Homo sapiens: one gene and its partners. The protein of the gene in region 5 interacts with the protein of the main gene of each other region in a pairwise test. Each region holds a gene or a part of one and is shown on either strand. Other genes may lie near its edges. The genes, in order: KRTAP15-1, MSX2, CRYBA1, CRX, RHOXF2, CAMK2A and SUMO1.

What was found.
Region 1: the proteins of RHOXF2 (region 5) and KRTAP15-1 interact in binary tests that used the Homo sapiens proteins (3 or more experiments, as listed by UniProt).
Region 2: the proteins of RHOXF2 (region 5) and MSX2 interact in binary tests that used the Homo sapiens proteins (3 or more experiments, as listed by UniProt).
Region 3: the proteins of RHOXF2 (region 5) and CRYBA1 interact in binary tests that used the Homo sapiens proteins (3 or more experiments, as listed by UniProt).
Region 4: the proteins of RHOXF2 (region 5) and CRX interact in binary tests that used the Homo sapiens proteins (3 or more experiments, as listed by UniProt).
Region 6: the proteins of RHOXF2 (region 5) and CAMK2A interact in binary tests that used the Homo sapiens proteins (3 or more experiments, as listed by UniProt).
Region 7: the proteins of RHOXF2 (region 5) and SUMO1 interact in binary tests that used the Homo sapiens proteins (3 or more experiments, as listed by UniProt).

Annotation. Positions count from the first base shown.
Region 1 is NC_000021.9:30,438,991-30,441,369, reverse strand, and holds KRTAP15-1 (keratin-associated protein 15-1), read right to left. Parts: upstream 1,096-2,379; 5' UTR 1,043-1,095; coding exon 629-1,042; 3' UTR 501-628; downstream 1-500. UniProt on the Homo sapiens protein: In the hair cortex, hair keratin intermediate filaments are embedded in an interfilamentous matrix, consisting of hair keratin-associated proteins (KRTAP), which are essential for the formation of a rigid and resistant hair shaft through their extensive disulfide bond cross-linking with abundant cysteine residues of hair keratins.
Region 2 is NC_000005.10:174,723,416-174,727,381, reverse strand, and holds the start of MSX2 (homeobox protein MSX-2), read right to left. Parts: upstream 2,801-3,966; 5' UTR 2,723-2,800; coding exon 2,344-2,722; coding exon of another isoform or gene 2,318-2,343; exon of another isoform or gene 2,315-2,317; intron 1-2,314. UniProt on the Homo sapiens protein: Acts as a transcriptional regulator in bone development. Represses the ALPL promoter activity and antagonizes the stimulatory effect of DLX5 on ALPL expression during osteoblast differentiation. Probable morphogenetic role.
Region 3 is NC_000017.11:29,245,368-29,249,658, reverse strand, and holds the start of CRYBA1 (beta-crystallin A3), read right to left. Parts: upstream 2,801-4,291; 5' UTR 2,796-2,800; coding exon 2,765-2,795; intron 518-2,764; coding exon 453-517; intron 1-452. UniProt on the Homo sapiens protein: Crystallins are the dominant structural components of the vertebrate eye lens.
Region 4 is NC_000019.10:47,838,937-47,841,380, reverse strand, and holds part of CRX (cone-rod homeobox protein), read right to left. Parts: intron 2,062-2,444; coding exon 1,414-2,061; 3' UTR 1-1,413. UniProt on the Homo sapiens protein: Transcription factor that binds and transactivates the sequence 5'-TAATC[CA]-3' which is found upstream of several photoreceptor-specific genes, including the opsin genes.
Region 5 is NC_000023.11:120,161,613-120,163,871, forward strand, and holds part of RHOXF2 (rhox homeobox family member 2), read left to right. Parts: intron 1-1,845; coding exon 1,846-2,175; 3' UTR 2,176-2,259. UniProt on the Homo sapiens protein: Transcription factor maybe involved in reproductive processes. Modulates expression of target genes encoding proteins involved in processes relevant to spermatogenesis.
Region 6 is NC_000005.10:150,244,774-150,248,273, forward strand, and holds part of CAMK2A (calcium/calmodulin-dependent protein kinase type II subunit alpha), read right to left. Parts: intron 3,042-3,500; coding exon 2,999-3,041; intron 429-2,998; coding exon 388-428; intron 1-387. UniProt on the Homo sapiens protein: Calcium/calmodulin-dependent protein kinase that functions autonomously after Ca(2+)/calmodulin-binding and autophosphorylation, and is involved in various processes, such as synaptic plasticity, neurotransmitter release and long-term potentiation.
Region 7 is NC_000002.12:202,228,598-202,232,097, forward strand, and holds part of SUMO1 (small ubiquitin-related modifier 1 isoform a precursor), read right to left. Parts: intron 3,448-3,500; exon of another isoform or gene 3,051-3,447; intron 1-3,050. UniProt on the Homo sapiens protein: Ubiquitin-like protein that can be covalently attached to proteins as a monomer or a lysine-linked polymer.

The DNA of each region.
Region 1 (2,379 bases), on a different chromosome or scaffold from region 5:
CTCTCAGATTCAAGTGATTCGCCTGCCTCAGCCTCCTGAGTAGCTGGGATTATAGGTGCACACCAGGCCTTGCTAATTTTTGTATTTTTAGTAGAAATGGGTTTTCACTGTGTTGGCCAGGATGGCCTCAAACTCTTGACCTAAAGTGATCCGCCAGCCTCAGTCTCCCAAAGTGCTGGGATTACAGGTGTGAGCCATCATGCCCAGCCTAAGTGTATTGTATTAACAAAATAAAATGGAATGCCAGAATTCATGCCAAAGAAATAAGCTTATTTAAAATATTGTAACTATTTGAAATATATTTGAGTGGAAGAGTTCTGGGAAAATAATGAGAGAAGGATTTTAGAAAGATGATAACAGAAATGATCCTGAGCATTGGCACAAAAATTGAAATTCAAGATATATCTCCTGTCAGATTTAGGAAGGGTCCTAGGTCAAGATTAATTTGTCCGTGTTCAATCATATACTTCCAAGAGGGCTAGGATGCTGAGTCCTACTGATGTAGATGGTCAACAATCACAGATATTGGACAGGCTGAGTGTTGCAGTTCCATAGAGTACAGAAATAATCATGAGAGAATGGAGAATATTCAGTAAGATGATCCAAAAAGGCGAGACCCAAAGGCTGGTTAGTAACAAGTTGCCTGGAAATTCCTGGATGAAAAGGTAGTTGGGTGGTAGAAGCTGGACCCACAGTCCAGAGATTGGAAGCCAGTGCTTCCACAACCAAGAGATCCAAGGCCAGTGTTTCCACATCCAAGGGATCTTATGTAGTTAGTCTGGCGGGGACTGCAGAAGATGGAATTCTTTGGGCAGTAACAGGATGTCTGATAGGATCTGGCCAAAGTGCAGGATGTCTGGCAGCTGGTGGGCTCACAGTAGGTCTCCTGACAGCCATTGTAGAGAGAGGAGCCCAGTTGGCAGGTATTTGGAGAATAGATGGCATTGCTGGGGTAGAACAAATTATAAGTGGAAACTGGATACCTCAGGTAACTTCCAAAACAGCAGGAGGAGAAGTTTCCAGAGCTGCAGTTGTAAGACATGTTAACAGGAGTTCTGAGCTCAGGTGATTTGCAGTGAGGAGCGTGTGTGTGTGAATGTTACCTTCTATACTGGACACTGACATACTCTAGCAATAGGTGTAGTCACAAGTGCCCATTCTAATGAGAACACTTAATTAGGCTGCAGTCAAAATGAAATATATTAACACTCAAAGAATTTTATTTATGAACGTAGACTTCTACATGAAAGAATTTCATTAGTTTTTCAAAGCAATTGTTCATGAAACAAAAATGCCATTTCTCATTCATCTTGCTTAGGTAGAATGAAAACCACCATAATTGTACCTATAAGACTGATGCTTCAAAGGGTCGGGCGCGGAGGCTCACACTTGTAATTCCAGCACTTTGGGAGGCTGAGGCAGGCATATCACGAGGTCAGGAGTTCCAGACCAGCCTGACCAACATGGTGAAACTCCGTCTCTACTAAAAATACAAAAATTAGCCGGGCATGGTGGTGGGCGGCTGTAATCCCAGCTACTCAGGAGGCTGAGGCAGGAGAATTGCTTGAACCCGGGAGGCGGAGTTTGCAGTGAGCCGAGATCGTACCACTGCACTCCAGCCTGGGAGACAGAGCAAGATTCCATCTCCAAAACAAACAAACAAACAAAGAAACAAAAAAACAAAGAAAAAAACTTGATGCTTCATTCATCCTGTCCTTCTAGAAATTGGATCAAACGGCTAAGACACTGAGAGTTCTGGTATTTGTAAAGATCTGAAAAATACCTTGTAATCTGGAAGGGACTTTGATCTTGCTCCAATTTTATAAATTCAATTGAGAACAGAAAAAAAATTTCAATATCTATTCCTTCTTTCAATTCTTTGAACCATTAGAAGAAATAACCCAATAACAATCCTTATTTGGTAGACATGCTAAATGAGTGCCTAACATATTTAAGTTTAGATTTCTTATAACACAAGTAGCTAAGTCACTCTTGTGCACATGAAGAGTTAAGAATGAAGGGTGAAATTTTTGAACAAGTGCTTTGAAGTTTACATTGTAAAACTACTAAAGAAATCCCTTACTCAAAGGTTGATTTGCTTCTTCATAGAAGTCATCAATAAGTTTGATTATAAAAAACCGTTTATCCCCATAAGGTATAAGTAATTTTTGGTCATGTTGATGTTACTGAGAGGAAAATAATAAGCACTATAAGTAAAATGTAAATCGTTAATCTTTTCCTTTCTTTTCTCTCAGAGGGTGACATTTTTACCAGAGAGGGAAAAGAAAAGCAAGAAATGAGGGAAATGTCTATCCCATGTAGTATTCACAGAAAGATAAAATATGTAAAGAATTCATAGTAACAAATGACTTTATAAAT
Region 2 (3,966 bases), on a different chromosome or scaffold from region 5:
AAATCCAGGTGACCGGGATCGCACATGTGTATCAAAACCATGAAGCTATGAGGCTTCCTCCCAATGCAACACTCCCCATCCCTCCACCCCCACCTAATTTTAAACCAGCCAGAGGAAGGATGCGATTATATAAGGCAAAACAGCGTTTATCCTACTTCCTCCAAATAACAAAATCAGGCCCGGGCGGGTAGCTCCCTCTCGCCCCAGGCTCCGTCGCCTGGCATTCTCAGGACCCACTACTCTGACCACAGGGTTCCCGCTGCCACCTCCAGGCCCAAAGCACCAACAATTCTTCATGGTGTTTTTTTTTTGTTTTTTTGTTTTTTTTTACTTTAAGTTCCGGGATACATGTGCAGAATGTGCAGGTTATAAACTCGGTTCTCAGAATTTCTGGTTCTTTTCATGGGAAGGTCACAGCCTGGGCCCGAGGTTGCCTTACCCAGAGCAGGGAAGCTTGAGCACAGGGCAGAGATGTTTAGAGGGGTAGTAGTCATTGCCTTTCCAGACCCACAGGCCTAAAGGATGGCAGGATTCCTAACCTCTGGACACTACTCCATTTAAGGCCTGTATCATTGGCTGGGCATAGGCGTAGGCTATGTACTCAATATTTGTTAAACAAATTAAGTCTTTTAATTTTCTGAGCCTCTACCTCACTGTCGATAAAGTGGGTAAGTAACACTAATCCCTCAATGTGGTCCACAGTACTAAAATTTTAAGAGTACCCAGAGCCCTGTCTGTCTGCCACCTGGTAGGTGATCATTAAATGGTCCCCAGCTTTTTTTTTTTTTTTTTTTTGGTCAGGCCCAAACTGCCGATTCCTCTCTGAACTTTGCTGAAATGTCCTCATCTGTTAAGAGGCCGGCTGCTGCCCTACAGAGGAGATAAGATAATACGGTGAAAAGTGCTATAAAGCACTATCCAAACTTGAGTTTAAATTCTTTGAGTCCCTTAATCTCCTCGCCCTTTGAATCTTTCAGAGTTTCTAACAGGGTGGAGAGAGACTGCCAGAGGGGACAGCCACTGACGCCTGGGTATATGGCCTTGTTTTGTTAACAAAATACAGTGCGTCTAGTCTTGAGGGCTGAATGATGTAAATAGTGAAAGGATCTCTCTCAGCTTTGGAGAAAGTCCCTCCACAGCCCCCACCCTCACCTTTCCTACAGGTAGGGGATGGCGTGGTGGGAAATTAGGGGGTAGAGAAACCATAAAAGCCAAGAGATAAAAGTAAAAGAGGCTGTAAAGGATGACGTCTCCAAATTGTAAAAGGACTCAGGGACCAAAAATGGATGCTGAAGCGGAGAATTCTCTGCAGCCTCAATTCTCAAGTGGGGTGCAGGTGCGGATCTCTACCTAGTCTCTCTGGGGAGAGGACGCAAAAGTGGTCAGGGCATATCAAACAGAGGAGCAGGGCGTGGGCAACAGGTGCCCCTGGCCAATCAGTGGTTGTTGGTAACCTGGGACAAGCAAAGGCCGTCTTCTTTAAAAGCCTCAGCGTCCACGTCTGAAAAATAGGGTAGTCACAAGTCCAGTGTCTACACTTGGGGGTTCTAGTGAGGATCTCGATCTGGTGAGCTAGTGAACATCACTCTGCAAACTCTCAAGCCCTGCTGGAATGCGGTTAATTATTACTGTGAGCCAAGAAGAGCCCGTGCGCTTCTGGCCCCAGCCCGCTCCCGGCGAAGCTCAGAACCTTGCCGGGGAGGTGCTGGCTGCGGAGACCACAGAGAGACATTTCCTCCCCGCACCAGACTCTGATGCCACCATCCCTGGTGCCACCATCCCTTCGTGGGATCCGGCTTCGACACCCGCGGGACTCACGAAAGAAAATGGTTTCTCCTCAATGTCTGGCTAAGCCCAGTTAGCTCATCTTTAAAATGGGGGCACAACTCTCAGGGTTGAGTTTTGAACCTGTCTCGTTCCTGGTACATCCAAGTGCTCACTGAACATGGATCCAACTCCTTCACTCCCCAGGCAGAGACTCCGGGGAACAGTGAAACAAAAACAAGCCAAGTGGCCAGAGCGCAGGGCCGAGGGCTGTAGAAACGGACCACCGAGCGACCCCGTAAACCCAGCTGGGGTTCGCTCTTGAAAAAACAATCTGTATGTCGAGGGAGTCTCAGACACACACAGCGCGGTTATTACCCAGAGGGTGTCTTGGATGCGGACGGCGCACTGGGCGCGCCGAACGCCCCGGGCACCCAGGAGTCCAGAGGCCCTGGGCTTGCTTTCCCGGGAGTGTAGCGCACGCAGAAGGGTCTCGGTACCCTCAGCCCTGGAACACCCGCCCCCCGCTCCCTCCAGTACCCCGCGCTACCTCCTACTCCTGCCCCGGCGCGCACTCACTTGGCGGCGGCGAATATCGGCCGGGTTCCTGCATCCACGCCGCTCCATCTTCTGAATTTTCCGACTTGACCGAGGCGGTCTCGAAGGGCTTCACCAGCGGCCCGGGGCTGTGCGCTTCCCGAGCGCCGTGCCCCGACAGCAGCAGTGGCCGCAGGGTGGCCCCGGCCGAGGCGCTTTCGGCCGGCAGCGGGGACGCCTCCTTGGGCGGCTTCTTGTCGGACATGAGCGCCTCCACGCTGAAGGGCAGGCTGGAGACCTTGACGCGGCGCTCCTCCGCGGCCCCCTCGGCGCCCCCAGGCCCCGGGCCTGGTCCGGCCACCACTGCTGGGCCCTCCTCGTCGGGCGAAAACAAGTCATTGCCTTTGGACGGAGAAGCCATGACTTCTCTGCCCTACGTAGCTCCCGACGCGCGACTCCGCTGGCAACCCGGCAGCGGCGACTCAAACTTTTTTGCTGCGGAGACGGGAGGGGCGCGCTGGGAGCTGAGCCTTTCCTCCGAGGGGAAGTGGGAGACGCGCGCCGCCAATCCGCGCCGGGCCTGGCGCTGACGCCAGAGACGCTCGCCCCTGATTGGCTCTTCCCGAAGGGGCTGCCCCCCCTCCTTTTTTTTTTTTTTTTTTTTTTTCCTGTTTGAAATAAATTAGGAGTTAATTACAGGAGCAGTCAGCAGAGTTGTTATTAGGCGATCCCTGAAGGGTTATAATCACGCCGAAACTGAAAAGCCCGAGACCTAATTAAGAGCGATTATTTAAAGCGGAAGTTCGCCGAGTCCCATTTCTTCTCTCTTTTGACCCTTCTTTAAAAGGGACCCTGCGCCCATCCCACTCTCCCTCTACCGCCAGAATAAGTTCAAGATTCGCAAACAGCATTGCAGAAACATTTACGAAGCCCCTACTATGCGTCAAAATTGGCTTACTTTACAGTTCCAGAAAGTCGGTGCTGAAACTCACAGGCCAGTATCCCTGTGAAAGAAATGTATGCACTTAGAAGAGTAACTCGCCACTAGCCAGCGCTCAAAAGCGCCCACTGTTATTATTACAACTCTTTCCCCTGGAAAAGAGGGGCCGGAAGGAGCCCGAGAAGTGGTCAGGAGTGCCTCTCTCCCAAATGGTTCGGAGTGAAGAATTTAAATCAGTTGTCCCCATCTCTCTCACTAGAAAGCAAATCCAGCGCACTTTTAGAAAGTTGAAATCTCTGTACTTGTCTCCTGAACCTCCTTTCTGAGCGCGATCCGGATCCGACCTTTTTCTCAAGACAGTGCAAGTGTGCATTCATGAGTTTGTTTGAGCCTGTGTTTGTCGTGCGTGTTTGAATGCCAGTGTTTGCCTCGGAGGGTAATGGGGGTGGGGGGGAGGAGGAAAAGTCGCCAATATCTAGTGCCTCCCTCTCGTTTGCAAGTCTCAGAAATACCGGCTTCCAAGTTTGCACACCCCAGGCCTACATATCATTTTGGGAAGCACATTTTTATTCATGGCACCTGGTTTTTTATAAAAACATAGATGTCTCCACCCCACCCCAAATTATACCCTCGGTAATTCCTTTCCAAAGCCTCAGTGATGACTGTCTCAGCCTGGGGAAGGGGAGAGCGAGCTTCGAGGATTAGAGGCCTCGGATCTCTCCGCT
Region 3 (4,291 bases), on a different chromosome or scaffold from region 5:
GGAGAGTGGGGAGTGTTGGAGAGAGGCCAGTGAGAGGCCTGAGGATCAGCCACTTCGGCCAATGGTTAAAGCCAACCTCAGGATGGGAGGCTGAGTCCTGTAATTTATTTGGGATCTAGTAGTAAATATCTTTATGGGCCCTCATTTTCTCCATGGACATAACTGTTGCTGGGCTGCTGTATTTTAAGATGACTTTAGTGGGGAGGAGAGAGGAGTTAGGAAACTAGGTATCATCTCCCACCCATCAATGGCATCCACAGTCATCCTTCCTTTGTCCAGTGGGACATCCTGAGAGATCCTTCCTTCGACAGCACTGGAGCTTGTGTGGACCTTTCCCCTACAAACTGGGGTTTTTCTGGTCAGTCACTGCCTTATGGACGAGCACAGGCCTGGGGCCTGCTCTGTGCAGCATGTCACCCCTGCCCTGTTGGATGTGATGGGGGTGGGCTTACCTTCCATGGCCCCAGGGACCCCGGCGTAGGGTTGGTCTGAGCCATCTTGGTGGTTGGAAGGGTTTCTGGAAGACAGAGCACACACGAATGATGTGGCCTCTTGGGAGGAGGGGGAGGTGAGGGAATGCCTTGAAAGGTAAAGGAGACTTGAAGTCTGCAAGACAGACTTTGGTTGAAATTCTGGCTCTGCTGCTCACTAGCTGTGCCTCGGGGTTTGTTGTTGTTGTTGTTGCTATTTTGAGACAGGGTCTTTCTCTGTCATCCAGGCTGGAGTGCAGTGGCACAATCTCACTTCACTGCAACCTCTGCCTCCTGGGCTCAAGTGATCCTTCCGCCTCAGCCTCCCATGTAGCTGGGACTACAGGCATGCACCACTATGTCCAGCTAGTTTTTGTATTTTTAGTAGAGATGGGGGTTTCACCATGTTGGCCAGGCTGGTCCCAAACTCCTGACCTCAAGTGATCCACCGCGCCCAGCCTGAGCCTCAGTTTTTCCATTGGTAAAGCTTCGACATGCAGTTATTGTAAGGATCAGAAATAATAGGCCGGGCACGGTGGTTCACGCCTGTAATCCCAGCACTTTGGGAGGCCAAAGCGGGCGGATCACCTGAGGTCGGGAGTTTGAGACCAGCCTGGCCAACGTGGTGAAACCCCGTCTCTACTAAAAATACAAAAATTAGCCGGGTATGATGGCACACGCCTGTAGTCCCAGCTACTCGGGAGGCTGAGGCAGGAGAATCGCTTGAACCCGGGAGGCAGAGGTTGCAGTGAGCTGAGATCGTGCCACTGCACTCCAGCTTGGGCAACAGAGTGAGACTCCATCTCAAAAAAAAAAAAAAGAAAAAAAACAAGGATCAGAAACAATAATGCAGGTAAAGCACTGAGACCCTGTCCTCTCACTTGCTTTCAGGTGACAGCATTACCTCTGTCTGCAATATAAACTCTTTGGCAACCACCTAGGCCAGACCCCTCATGTGACTGGCCAAACAGCCAGCCATGCCAGGATCCCAAGCCCCAGACTCCCTCGTAACCCTTCACGGTCTCATCCTTATCTGGCCTCTTTCTGCTTTTCTTTTTCTTTTTTTTTTTTTGAGATAGAGTTTCACTCTTGTTGCCCAGGCTGGAGTGCAATGGCGCAATCTCGGCTCACCGCAACCTCCGCCTCCCAGGTTCAAGCGATTCTCCTGTCTCAGCCTCCCTAGTAGCTGGGATTACAGGCATGTGCCACCACGCCCGGCTAATTTTGTATTTTTAGTAGAGACGGGGTTTCTCCCTGTTGGTCAGGCTGGTCTTGAACTCCCGACCTCAGGTGATCTGCCCGCCTTGGCCTCCCAAAGTGCTGCGATTACAGGCATGAGCCACGGCGCCTGGCCATTCCTTTCTGCTTTTCTATCTCCTAGATCCTACCCAGCCTTGACCTTGCCTTCTCAGAGGCTTTCCTGCCTTCTCCAGCCCACAGCCACTTGCTTGCTTTCTTGATTTATAGCACTCATCACAGTACCAATCTGTGTTCTGGTTGGATGTCCTGGTGAGCACCTCAATGGCAAGGCCTCGGTCTTCTAGGGGATTGGTATAGCATCGTGCTGAGCACATGTGGAGATGAGGGATCAGGGGGACATTGAAAAAGACTTATTGAAGGAAAGTGAAGAAGAAAAGAGTTATAATACTTACACTCAAAAATGGCTATCTACATGTCCGGCCCTGTTTTAAATGCTTTACATGCATTCATGCATTTAATCTTCACATACAGACTATGAATTAAGAATTATCATTATCCCCATTTTACAGATGAGGATACTGAGGCTCAAAGAGGTTAGGTAGACAGTGAAGATGGTAGGACGAGTTTTAAAAAAGGAAGGACAGAGCAAGAAAGAGGAAGGAAAAGTGGGGGAGGAAGGGAAGAAGGAAGACAGGCAGGTGTGTATTAGGTTTCTTAGGACAGATATTCATGGCCCTCCTCCTGGCTGGTATTGGGCCCAGGAATGATGCATGTCAACTCTGTAATATATTTTTCCATTCTGAATCTCTGAATAAGCAACATTTCCCAGGTCCTGCTCCCATACCTTCTCCCTGCTCGTTTCTTGGGGGCCCATGCCCATCCCCCAGCCTTAGTTGCTAGGGCAGTGGTTATTGCTATATAAGTGACTCCTCTTGGGGTGACAAGAGAAGGCTGTCTTCCGCCAGAGTTCCCCACTCTTCTCCAGCCACCCTAGAAGGCTCTACACACTAGGCAGGAGAACTGGGCCCTCTCCTGGGCATGTCTCTGCAGGGCAAGGAGAGGAAGGGCAAGGGCACCCTGAGGGCCTTACTCACCCAGCTCCTGCTGCTCAGCCTGGGTCTCCATCTGGTACCACTTGCTCTGTGGCCCTCCTCTTTATAGCCCTGCGGCCTCTGGCCTCTGGCCCTGTCAGCACTCTGCTCTCCCTCTGCCTTTGTTCCTCATGATCCCCAGAGCTTTGGTGGCTCAGCTTGCTGGGGCCTTTGTTTAAACCAGGGATACAGAAATCCAGAGAGGCCCCTCTGTTGTGGGCATGGCTGGCTGCTGCAGGCCTTGGCTTTCTTAATCTCTCAGAGCAGCTAGGGGGTGAGGACAGAAGTCTCTGCCATGAGTACTTGTCTCTTGTCCTTCTCCAGGTTCCTCACACCACCTTGGGATCTTCCTAAGACCTTAAGACCCTGGGAGACCCCATGTCATATCAAACACATCAAAATGCACCTCACTTCCATACAGATGTGCATTTCTTGTTGTTTAAAAATGTGAAAGAATTATTGTAATTCTGAACTCAATATGAGAAAAAATGGTTCATTGTATTCTTGGGAATCTTTATTATGCTGTATTTATATATAACTATGTAAGGGTTGACTTCAATTATAGTTGACTAGCAGACATGTGTCTCTCTGTAGCTATTTTATTAAATATTCCTTTTAATTTTGCAATTTTCTTTAAAAATTTTGGAGCTATAACTTTTGGGTTTTTTAAAAAAGAATTAAACCATTTATTGAATAATTCCTATATATTAGACATGTGCTAAATGCTTTACTTAAAAAGTTTGAATTAAATACTTTTCCACAACAAAAGAAAGAAATACTTTTTCACAGCCACCACAACAGTGCTATTTTCACCTCCATTTTCCAGATTAAGAAACTAAGAGAACAATCAGGTGACTTGCCTAAGGTCACAGTATTTATAATGGCAGAGCCAAGACTCGAATCCAGTTCTAACCAACACCAAAGTCACTGCCCTGCACTGGCCCTCCCTCAGGAGTAATGCATAAATGGCCCAAAAAATTCCAGGAGAGGAAAGAGACCCCCCTGGCTAGAACTGCAGTTCTGAATATAAACACTGAGCATATAATGGATGTAACTTATCTGTTTCAAAAGGGGAAGGAGCCTAGAAATGAAGCAATTTTTCCTCCTCAAATGATCTTGGCTGCCTGTCCCTTTGTCTTCCATGTTAATTCCTTTCACCATTCTGCTCCCAAACAGGCCAGGTCCCACATCAGTTCCAGGAGGAAAGGGCTCTTTCAGCCTGCGGGTCATCGTTGGGCAGCAGTAGGAAGGGGAAGAAGGCAACCTTCTGAATACCTCCTTTGGACTCACCATCTAGATGTAAAGGGTTCACCTGCTCCATCTCAGATTCCCGGGGGCCTTCCTGTGAAGTTGTCTAGGCAAGCGGTGATAGGGACCTAGATGTCCTTGCTTCTCCCCTCTAGCTCACCCAGGCCAGGGGCGAGAATTCCTGCCACCCACACCTTCAAAACCAATTTTTTTTTTCTTTTTGAGACAGAGTGTCGCTCTGTTGCTTAGGCTGGAGTGCAGTGGTGCGATCTTGCCTCACTG
Region 4 (2,444 bases), on a different chromosome or scaffold from region 5:
CCTAAAACAAAAGAAAAAAGGAGTAGAGATGGAACAGGCAAGGTGCCTTTCATTTCCCTACCAAATACACACATTCCCAATGTGCTAATGAGCGAATGAGTGATAAAATGTCTTTAAAAAGAAACTAAGAAGAAAAAGTACATATATGTATAGCTACATATATGAATGTAGATCTTTGTCTCTCAAACGGTCCCCTAAACCTACCATGTAAGCCTGACATTTGTGAAGTCTGTGAAATTCCCAGATAATTTATTTTTAATGTAACCACATCATTGGCCTAAGGTTTCCCGACGGGGCTTCTTAAAGTCTGTCTTTGGAATTTCTAGAAAGGTCCCTAACCATATGCTAAAGAAGTGTCCACGTGTAGGGCCAGGCACAATGGCTCATGCCTGTAATCCCAGCACTTTGGGAGGCCGAGGCAGGCGGATCACTTGAGGTCAGGGGTTCCAGACCAGCCTGGCCAACATGGTAAAACCCTGTCTCTACTAATAATAGAAAAATTAGCCGGGCATGATGGAGCACACCTGTAATCCCAGCTAATTGGGAGATTGAGGCAGGAGCAACGCTTCAACCCGGGAGGTGGAGGTTGCAGTCAGTGAGCTGAGATCACACCACTGCACTCCAGCCTAAGCAAAAGAGTGAGACTCCGTCTCAATTAAAAAAAAAAAAAAAAAAAAGGGCCGGGCGCGGTGGCTCACGCCTGTAATCCTAGCACTTTGGGAGGCCGAGGCGGGCGGATCACGAGGTCAGGAGATCGAGACCATCCTGGCTAACACGGTGAAACCCCGTCTCTACTAAAAATACAAAAAAAATTAGCCGGGCCTGGTGGTGGGCATCTGTAGTCCCAGCTACTCGGGAGGCTGAGGCAGGAGAATGGCGTGAACCCGGGAGGTAGAGCTTGCAGTGAGCTGAGATCGTGCCACTGCACTCCAGCCTGGGCGACAGAGCTAGACTGTGTCTGCAAAACAAAAACAAAACAAAAAAAAAAATTCTGTCCACGTGGAAAGTTAAGTTATCAAGCCCCCCTACCTGCTTGTTCAAGGGCACGGTGATTCTGACCTAAACATGACCCCAAATCAACTGCAAGTTTGGTTTGACTTCTTCTTGGAGCAAGTTCTCAGCACCACTTTCTGAAGCCTGGAGCTCGTGGTGTACTTCAGCGGTCACAATCGTGCCAGACGGTGTTAGGGTTGAGAGAATCACTAGGACCTGTGAGCTGTCCCAGGAGAGGGAGGAGCCTCTCCCTGTGGAGGAAAGGGGTGGTCTCTGTAAGCTGAACACCGAGCTGTCAGAAGGACAGCTGGTTCGGGTTGCTTTCTCAGGAATGCCATCCCGGGATCTAAACTGCAGGGAAGCAGATTCAGAAGAGAAAGGGTCCCGAGGCCCGATGGAGAGAGATGGAGACTGCGTCCTCTACAAGATCTGAAACTTCCAGGCACTCTGATCCTTGTAGTCCAGAGGGTCCATGGGATTGTAGGTGAATTTCCAGGTGCCCGTGGGGTCCTTGAATTCCAAGCTATCCACGGGGCTGTAGGCGCCATAGCTCTGGCCTGATAGGGAGGTGGGGGACTGGGCCAGGGAAGGTCCCACGGAGGGGCCAGAGAGGGGGCTAAGAGCCGGGCCCCCTAGCTGGGGCACCATGGGAGAAAGGTAGGGGTCTAGGCCGCTGAAATAGGAGCTCGGAGACCCATAGGCGGAGGGGGAAGAGCAGAAAGCGGAGGCCGGGGCGTAGGTCATGGCATAGGGGGCGGAGGTCAGAGACGGCCCTGAGGCCACCAGCCCAGCCCGCTGCGCCTCAGGCAAAGGGGACTCTGAGGCTGGGCTCCAGATGGACACAGTGGCCACTGCCGTGGTTGGGGAGCCTGAGGGGCCGGGCAGAGGGGGACTGTAGGAATCTGAGATGCCCAGAGGGTCTGGACACACATCTGTGGAGGGTCTTGGGGACGTGCCCGCCTTCCTCTTGGCAGGCCGGGCCTTGGCCTGGCCCCCTGGGGGCTGCTGCTGCTGTTTCTGCTGCTGTCGCTGCTGCCTGCATTTAGCCCTCCGGTTCTTGAACCAAACCTGGGGGATAAGAGCGGAGATGGGGGTGGGTAAGTGGGGAAGAGGCCCAGGAGAGCCGCAGGGTGCCCGGGGATGAGGACACTTATTGGTGAGAGGTGCTGGGTTCACATCTGTCTACTTTGCATCCAGCTGTGGGGCGTCTATTCACCCATCCATCCATCTATCCATCCAATCATACCTGCATGTGTGCATGAACACATGCATACATCATACCCATGTGCATTCATCCCATCCGTCTAATGCAAACATGCACACGTACAATTATACATGCATACACCATACGCACATACATCATGCCTGCATTTACCCATCGATATGATCATACATACATCATACACATATTCATCCACCCATCTAATACAAACATGCACACGTACAGTTAT
Region 5 (2,259 bases):
ATCGGGATGACCTTAATAGCTTTTCTGCAGAGCTCATGTGTGTGAGTGCAGTGAGGGAACTATGCTGCGGTTCTGTCAATGGTGGCATGCAGAAAAGCTGCCTGACAAAACGGGGCACTGAGTGTTGGCATCCTGTTGCCCTCCATTTTCTCAGGCAGGCAATGCCAATTTGGGGGAGATGAAATATTGACGTTTTGGTGAATTGCCTTTCCCCTCCCTGGGTTTACATAGCATTCACTCAATGCAGTTCTGAAGGCAAAAGGACCACTCTCACTCAGCAAATAAGGAAAAAGGCATGATGTTCTCATCTATTGCCAAACATTTCAGCATGAATATCTCCAAAAATTTTTAATAGATGTTTCCCCCCTCTGTTTTGTAAAGATAGTAAGGGCTGGTTTATGAAACCGATACGGAGACTAGGGACCTAATGTTGTCCCATAGCACATTTGGCCCACTTTTGGCATTGCTTATGTTTATGAACCTTTGACCACAGGTACATTGGAATTGTCTCTAAACAAGCACTATTACGGTAGGCTTAAAATTTAGACTATGTATTCATGAGGGAGAAGGACTCCAAATAGTAAGATGGGAGAAGGAAATGGGGCATCAAACAGGGAGAAGAGTCCCTTTGTCCCATAAAATTTGCAGTTTGGGAACTTCCAGAAGGATCAAAATACAATGGAAATGTCATTAACTAGAAGCTTGGGGGATAGTGTTGTTTAATTGACAGGTTTTATTTTTTGGTCTTTTAACAATTGGCAGGTGTTTGGGGAGTAGTGTTTTTTGATACCTCCTCCACATTACTACTGAACGTGTTCAGAGTTGCCTATTTGGACACTCCCGCTTTGGGAATGCTGATGAGATTGGGATCTTCTGCTCGAGTAGTGAGGCTAGATGGCTGAAGGCGTCCCATGGAACTGGGCAACCAAGTCTCTGTCCCATATCCCAGGACTATAGGGAGAACAAAGTGAGCTGACCTTGTCCTTAGCCCAGGAAGATTTGGAGGGAGGGATGAGTTGGAGCGTGCAGAATTAGCAATGCTTCCTTTCTCTCAAACTCTCAACTGGGCAAAGCTTTTTGAGAATTTTTGTGAATTTGGACAACATTTGTGTCCTCCTTCCACAAAGCTTCAAGCTGAAGTGTGAAGAGTGTCCAGGGCTTCAGATACCCTCATTTCCCAGCAAGACAATCCACAAACTCCCTGGGCCCCCTATAACGAGACTTGCCTTGCAATATACCATCTTTTTAATTCTCAAGGAGTTTCAGAAGATGAATGACCCCTTAGAATTTCTTGAAGGAAAGAAAACTTGTTTTAAAATACAATGTACTCTTACCGATTTTTTACTTTACACTGAAGATGGGCTTTTCAAAACGGGGGCCTCATCTTCTTGGTATGACTTTAAAAGGCACCCCCGCCTTTTTTTCCAAGCTCAGCTTCCCCCACGACCAGGGTGACAGTGGCCTAGTAAGTAGGAGTTGGTGGGCAGCTGGGTAGCTGATGGTCAAGTATCTGCAAGCAGACATGCCACACATAGCAATACCAGCAGGGATCGAGTCCCACTCATCAGCTACACCTGCACCCAAGAGTGGAAAAAGTAATATTACAGATAAAAGGAGAGAGACAAAGAAATAAGCCAAGCCAGAGCGTACGTAGCACATACTTGGAGCTCACTAGGGGAAAGGTGTGGTGGTCACCTTTCTAAGATATTTTAGTAGTAAGGAAGTAGCTTGTCTTGATACACCCGAAAAGGTTAAGGACATAGAGAGTTGCTTGTTGTGTTTTTTTCCATGATGAAATTAAATGCTCAGTATACTAAACCTGTTTCTTTTTTCCTCTGATTGAAGATTTGGTTTGAGAATAGAAGAGCCAAATGGAGGAGACATCAGAGGGCATTAATGGCAAGAAACATGCTGCCCTTCATGGCAGTGGGCCAGCCTGTCATGGTAACCGCAGCTGAGGCCATAACGGCACCCTTGTTCATCAGCGGGATGAGAGATGATTACTTCTGGGACCACAGCCATTCCAGCAGCCTGTGTTTCCCCATGCCACCCTTTCCTCCTCCGTCCTTGCCCCTTCCACTCATGCTTCTTCCACCTATGCCACCCGCTGGCCAGGCTGAATTTGGCCCATTCCCTTTTGTTATCGTGCCTTCTTTCACATTCCCCAATGTCTAAGGGATAGCCTCTGTGCCACTTTTTGCCAGAGTGTCTTTGAGCCAGATTCATATTTTGCATAGCACCCCATCAAAAGTAGTTCAT
Region 6 (3,500 bases), on a different chromosome or scaffold from region 5:
ACATAGGCAGGACGGAGGTCACCCCTCATGACCATTTCTGTCCTCTCCTTGCACCCTCTCTTGCACACCAGCTCTCCAGCCTCGGAGAACCACAGAAATCTCCTTCTGACCTGCCCCTTTCCTTGCGCCTGCCCCCACCCCAGCACACCTGTCACTTCCACCCTCCTCCAGTCCCCCCTCTCCCATCTGCCCCCCAACAGTCACGGCGCAACGGTGGGCACCAAAGCCTAGGTCGTGGGTCTGGAGACAGCCTGGCCACAAATGTGGCCCACGTCTGCCCAGGACACCATCAGCAAGGCCCGGGTCTTGCTCCAGGCCTGAAAGCCGGTCTCTGTTGGCAGAAACGCTGCCAGAGCCAAGCCCTGCCAGGCTCCTGGAGGGGCTTACCTTCACACCATCGCTCTTCTTGTTTCCCCCACTCTTCCCTCCTGTGGAGGAGAAAAAGTAGAGGGTTAACAACGCCAGGCAGGGCACCAGGGCCCACAGGGCGAGGACGAGCAGCATCCACACGCAGCCGGAGGGCAGACTGCAGGGAGCAGAGCTGGCCCAGCGATCCTGGGGGAGGCCTCCTCCTCCTCCTCCTCCTCCTCCTCCTCCTCCTCCCTCCTTGGAGGCCCAGGGACTGCCTGGGTTCCCCGCCTTCTCAGCAATCTCAAGCGTAACCCTCTGGCTTCATGGGTTGAGGGAGGTGTCCAACATGTCCCAGGACTGTGGGCTGCTGTTTCAGCCCGGGGATTCCCTCTGAATCCCTGTCACCACCGTGCTGGCGGTGGCCAACCCGAGGTCTGGCTGCCTGGCCCCAGGCTGGACACGCCCTCCCCACCCTGGCCCTCTCTAATTTTAGCCCCATGCTGCTGCGGAGGTCATGTGTCAGCCCTGCCTACTCACTCCGGACAGCTGCAGGCTGCGTCTTGCCAGTGACAAGAAGCAGATGCCCCCACTGGGGCCCACCCTGCCAGAGCACCCATCCCCTGCCTCTCTCCTCAGGCCATATAGGCCTCCCCAACCTCAGACTCCAGAGCCCCATATTGGCACTGGCTATGGCCCGGGTGGCAGGGACAACCAGAGCAACAGCTCTTTGGGGGCTTCCCCTGCTGTCATTTCCCCTTACCTCCCTCCTCACCTCCTGGCCAGAGCCCTGGAAGTGGGCATCAGCCAGGAAATGGCCTGAATGTCCAGCCCTGCCCACAGGCATCCGGCTGCTTCAGACTTAAGCAAATACCTTAAATGAAACAAGGTATCTGTGAAGTACTTAGCAAAGCACCTGACCCATAAGCCGCACATGCTCAGGAAATGGTAGCCATGATAAGACTTCTCCTGGTGGCCTTGAGAGGGGGAGTTGGGAGGAGGGTCATATGAGCCACTGATGCCCCAGGGGCTCTGAGGCATGGGGCTCATGGCAGGTCACCTTCCCAGTCACCCCCACATTTCCACCTATGACCCCTTCGAGGCTCTCATTCCAAGTTCCCTACTTGCAAACCAAGGCAGGGGCCACCTCTGGATCCCGAAGCTGACAGGAATGGCTGTCCATTCACCACAGGCTTTGGAGGGTTGGACTAGGATGTGCAGTGGGGCAGGGGGAGTGCTTTCTCCTCGAGCCTCAAGGTAGACGCCCCTCTCAGCTCCAGCCTACTGTCACAGGATCGTGGGTCCAGTGAGGCCACAGCGTCTAATTTTCAAGAGACGACAGCAATCTGGGGTTTTCTATGAAATTTCCTAATTTTTAAGTGTTAGAAACTCATTCAAAAAAATTTTTAAAACACCCCTACCTCCACAAAGCATATCAAGAGATTCAATCCAGCTCACAGGCCGCCATTTTGTGAGCTCAGGACTAGAGTTCTTTAGGGTGCTTCAGTTGTTAAAAAAAGACTCTGACTATCTGGGTAGCTCATCTTTCAGTTTACGGAATGGCAGGATCCTTGTCCAGGGAGAGGGTGGGAAGGCAGTTTAACGAGGTAGGAAAAGCCCAGTCAGAAGTTCTAGTATCTGCCCACCTCTGGGTCTCACTCCTCCCAACTGGTTACATGGGCAGGTGGACCCACTCAATGCAGCCAGCTGCCCCCTTCTCAGAGCTGCCCTCTTGCTGTGGTGCTGGCCACAAATCTGCAGCAGCTTTCTCGGCTGGCCCCAGCCCCAGTCAGAGGGCCCCTCGGGTGAGCTTTGCTCTATCTGCTATCTATATCTCCTCTACTGCCTGCCAGCGGCCTGCGCTCCCCAGAAGGAAGCCTCTGGAGGGCACTGGCCCCAGCCCTCTCTGATGTGCCAAGAGGAGCTTCTTGCTAAACCCTGACAATAATCCCTTCCCCTTCTCTCTGCAAAGCCACATGCCTCAGGTGATTGGGCACTCCCTGCCTTAACCAGCCCAGTTTGGCCAAGGGCCTGGGACGCTCCTGCCCTGGACTCACTGGTGACCCAATCCAGTTAAAGGCACTTGCCCTGGGTTTGGTCAAACCTGTGCTGAATGCAGGCTCTGCCTCTCTAGCCATGTGACCTGGGACAAGTCAGAGCTCACCTTCCTGAGCTTCTGCTTCCTCATCCCAGAAATAGGGATGGCAGCACCCCCATCATCCCCTCTGCTGCCTTGTCATGTAGGCCACCTGAGTGGAAGCACGGGACTGCTTAGCACAGGGCTCCAATCATGGTGGGCAATATTGTTACTCCCTGGACCTGGCTCCACCCCATCTAGAACTCAATCCCCTGCAATCAGAAGCCTTCCCCTCTAGGCGGCCCAGCCTGAGAACCCCAGCACTGCTGTAGGAGTGGGCAGCCAGACTAAATCTGTAACCAGTCCTGGTGGGCCCTGGGCTTGCTGACTTTTGACCTCTCTTCACTTCTGGGTACAGGCCGTGGCAGGTGAGCTAAGCCCTTAGTCACAGAGTCCTCTACAACTCCCTCTCCCCAGGCCCAGTGGCCTGGGGGCACTCCAATATCTGACAGGACGGTGCCCCCAACGAACTGGTGCAGGGCTTACTGGGGACCCTGAGGTCCTGCCACCTACCGGAGAAGTTCCTGGTGGCCAGCATCGTGGTGAGAATGGCTCCCTGCAAGACATAAGAAGAGGGCAGTGGGAGAGGAGGCCGGAGTGAAGGGACCCAGGAGGGACAGAGAGACGGGAGGGCCACGGGGAAGGAGAGGCAGGTGCTGCATTCAGAGAAGAAGCCAAAGCCTCTGCCCTGCCCCTCCATTTGTCCCAACCCCAACCCCAGCCCAGAGCCCATCCCTCGCCCCCTGGAGAAGTCGGGGTGAGCTAGGCTTTAGCCAGTACAGCTCCTGGGACAAGGCCGTCCTAGGGGCAGATATTAATGGGCCCCTTGGCCCGCCCAAGCTGAAGAGCTTGAGGGACACCTACCAGCAGAGGCTCCTGAAGATGATGGACTTTTCTTGCTTGGGCAACAACAGCAGACCTCGTGTCCCCCAACCCCTCCACCTCTTAGCCCTCTGCCCCGTGCTGAGAGCATCTTGCTCCAGGACTAGCTCATCCCTCCATGGCCCCTGGGCTC
Region 7 (3,500 bases), on a different chromosome or scaffold from region 5:
AAAAATACAAAAAATTAGCTGGGCGTGGTGGTGGGCGCCTGTAGTCCCAGCTACTTGGGAGGCTAAGGCAGGAGAATGGCGTGAACCCAGGAGGTGGAGCTTGCAGTGAGCCGAGATCACGCCAATGCATTCCAGCCTGGGCAACAGAGCAAGACTGTCTCGGAAAAAAAAAAAAAAAGTCACTCCAAGCTTCAAATTCTATATATATCAATTTATTTTATTTCCTAATGAAGAAAGCTCAAAAAGGGTTAAACAGGATAATTCTAATGCACCATTAAAAGGGAAAAACCGAGAATTACAGTGAAGTCACTTCCCTTATACTTAAATAATTTACCACAATTCCATTTTATTTATTTATTTATTTTGAGTCTCGCTGTGTCACCCAGGCTGGAGTGCAGTGGCACGATCTCGGCTCACTGCAAACTCCGCCTCCTCAGTGGCTGGGACTACAGGCGCACACCACCACACCCAGCTAAATTTTGTATTTTTTCATAGAGACAGGGTTTCACCATGTTGCCCAGGCTGGTCTCGAACTCTGGTGCTCAGGCAATCCGCCTGCCTCGGCCTCCCAAGTGCTGGGATTACAGGAGTAAGCCACTGCACTGGGCCCACGATTCTAAAAACACAAAAATATATGTATATTTTCATCTTCATGATGCATATGTTCAAACTTAGTAAGACGGTACTAGAGATTTAGAACAGAACTGACCAGATTTAACTGTATAACTTCAAGGTTTAGGTCAAAGCTGTCAACACAATGGGCCTCTGAATATTTACATTCAACCCTGAATGGTAGTTAAACACTAGTCATGCACAGATAGCTTCTCAGGAACTCAAAACTATAACTAAAAATTTTACTGGTTGTGTAAACCTTACCCTTTGAGTCTAGACCTATGCTAAGCCTAGAACAAACCAGTTTGATTGCATCCAAAAGTACTAGCAAACAGACTTGGAAGTATGACAGACATTGTTAATTACCTATCTGGTATCTATTTTCCCTTTCTTCCTTACAAAGGGAAACCTAAATTTACCCAGATAAAAAACGTATTTCCCAGCTTCTTTTATACCCATTTTGGCCAAAGAGATATAAAGTGAACATACTTTTTCCCTTTTCTCCTGTCTGGAACACAAAGTAGCTTTTTTGTGCCCACAAGTAGACAAGCACCAGAGTGAAAGACTGCTGTTAAGGATGGAGAAGAAAATAATATGAAGGAACTGTGGAGCTACCACATCAGCCTTGAGCTACTTTTGTCTACATTTCTTGTTTTATGAGAAAAAAAAAATTGTTTAACCTACAATAAATCAAACTTTCTGTTATTCAGCCCAAAAGTAATCCTGAAATAGAAGGTGCTATAAAAGGTATAAGTTTGGCTCATATTAAAAACAGGTGCTAGAAAATTCCTCAATGGGCATCAAAAGCAGAATGAATAAGTAAATTGAGTGTACTGCATTCCACACAATGGAAAGCCACACAGCAATGAGATGTAATAACATACAACTATATACAATAATAATGAACAAACCTCTAAACAGTGCCGGGCAAAAGAACCAACACACAGAGATACATACTGTATGATTTCACTTATAAAATGTTATGCTGTATAAAAACAGACAAAACTATTCTACTTGTTAAGTCAATACAGCAGTTCTTCATCTGAGTGCTGGTTGCATGGATGTGTTCAGTTTGTGAAAGTTCGGCAAACCAAACACTCTTGTGCACTTTTTTGTATGTATATTACTCTTTGGTAAAACCTTTAAAAATAACTGGCCCTAGATATTGAGAACAACCAGCCCAGCAAACAAAACTCCACCCTTCCTTCCTTCCTTCAGGTCTTTTCCTTCAGATCCTCATTAGCTCAGAAAAGGCAACTGAATGCAAAAATAGCCAAAAAATATAACCGATACAACGTATCTTTAAGTAAACATAGTCACGTTGCAGGAATTATCCAGATTTTAAACTGTAAAACTAAGGTGCTCAATAACAGTATCTGTGTGAACTTTTCCCCATGACTCTTTTAAAAAGAAACAGAATATCAGCCGGGATGGCGCAGTGGCTCATGCCTGTAATCCCAGCACTTTGGGAGGCCAAGGCAGTCAGATCACCTGAGGTCGGGAGTTCGAGACCGGCCTGACCAACATGGAGAAGCCCCATCTTTACTTAAAAAAAAAAAAAAAAAAAAAAATGAAATTAGCCGGGCGCAGTGGCTCACGCCTGTAATCCCAGCACTTTGGGAGGCCGAGGCAGGCGGATCACTAAGTCAGGAGATCAAGACCATCCTGGCTAACGCAGTGAAACCCCGTCTCTACTAAAAATAAAAAAACTTAGCCAGGCGTGGTGGTGCGTGCCTGTAATCCCAGCTACTCAGGAGGCTGAGGCAGGAGAAATGCTTGAACCCAGGAGGCAGAGGTTGCAGTGAGCAGAGATCACGCCATTGCGCTCCAGCTAGGACTCTGTCTCAAAAAAAAAAAAAAAATTAGCTGGGCATGGTGGCACATGCCTGTAATCCCAGCTACTCGGGAGGCTGTGGCAGGAGAATCGCTTGAACCCAGGCGGCAGAGGTTGTGGTGAGCCAAGATGGCGCCATCGCATTCCAACCTAGGCAACAAGAGCGAAACTGTCTCAAAAAAAATTAATTAATTAAATTAATTAAGTAGAATATCAGCATTATATATATATACTTTTTTAAATCACAACTTCAGGGAATTCCAAAATGGAATGCTAAAGATGTCTTAATAAAAAATTAACTGGGCCAGGCACCGTGGCTCATGCCTGTAATCCCTGCATTTTGCAAGGCCAAGGCAGGCGGATCACCTGAGGTCAAGAGTTCAGGACCAGCCTAGCCAACATGGTGAAATCCCATCTCTACAAAGATCAAAAATTAGTTGAGCATGATTGCAGGTGCCTGTAATCCCAGCTACTTGGGAGGCTGAGGAGGGAGACTCACTTGAACCTGGGAGGCGGAGGTTGCAGCGAGTCGAGATGGCACCACTGCACTCCAGACTGGGTGACAGAGCGAGACTCCGTCTCAAAAAAAAAAGATTATCGGCCTCTCTTCCTTTATCTGCCATCATGGTGTGTGCTTGACTCCACTTCTCGCCATGTCTTCTCACAAGACTTTCAGGGTTAAGTGATTCCTGGCCAAGAAACAAAAGCAAAATTGACCCATTCCCCAGTGGATTCGGATGAAAACTGGTAATAAAATCAGGTAAAACTCCAAAAGGAGCCATTGGAGAAGAACCAAGCTGGGTCTATAAGGCATTGCATGATACAACATACTTATGCTGTCTGAAGGTCACAATCATGTTACCATATCGAGCTGAAAATGTCACCACTATCTAGAGAGTTGGACATGTTTTATTGGGAATATATTTTTTTCTCTGAATCTGTTATGAACGTGTTGGTTGGCTAGGTTCAGTAATAAATATGTGAGACCTTTCATTTTTTAAAAAAAAAATCATCCTTAACAATCCCAGTGTCCTGGAAGAAGTAAATGATTCAA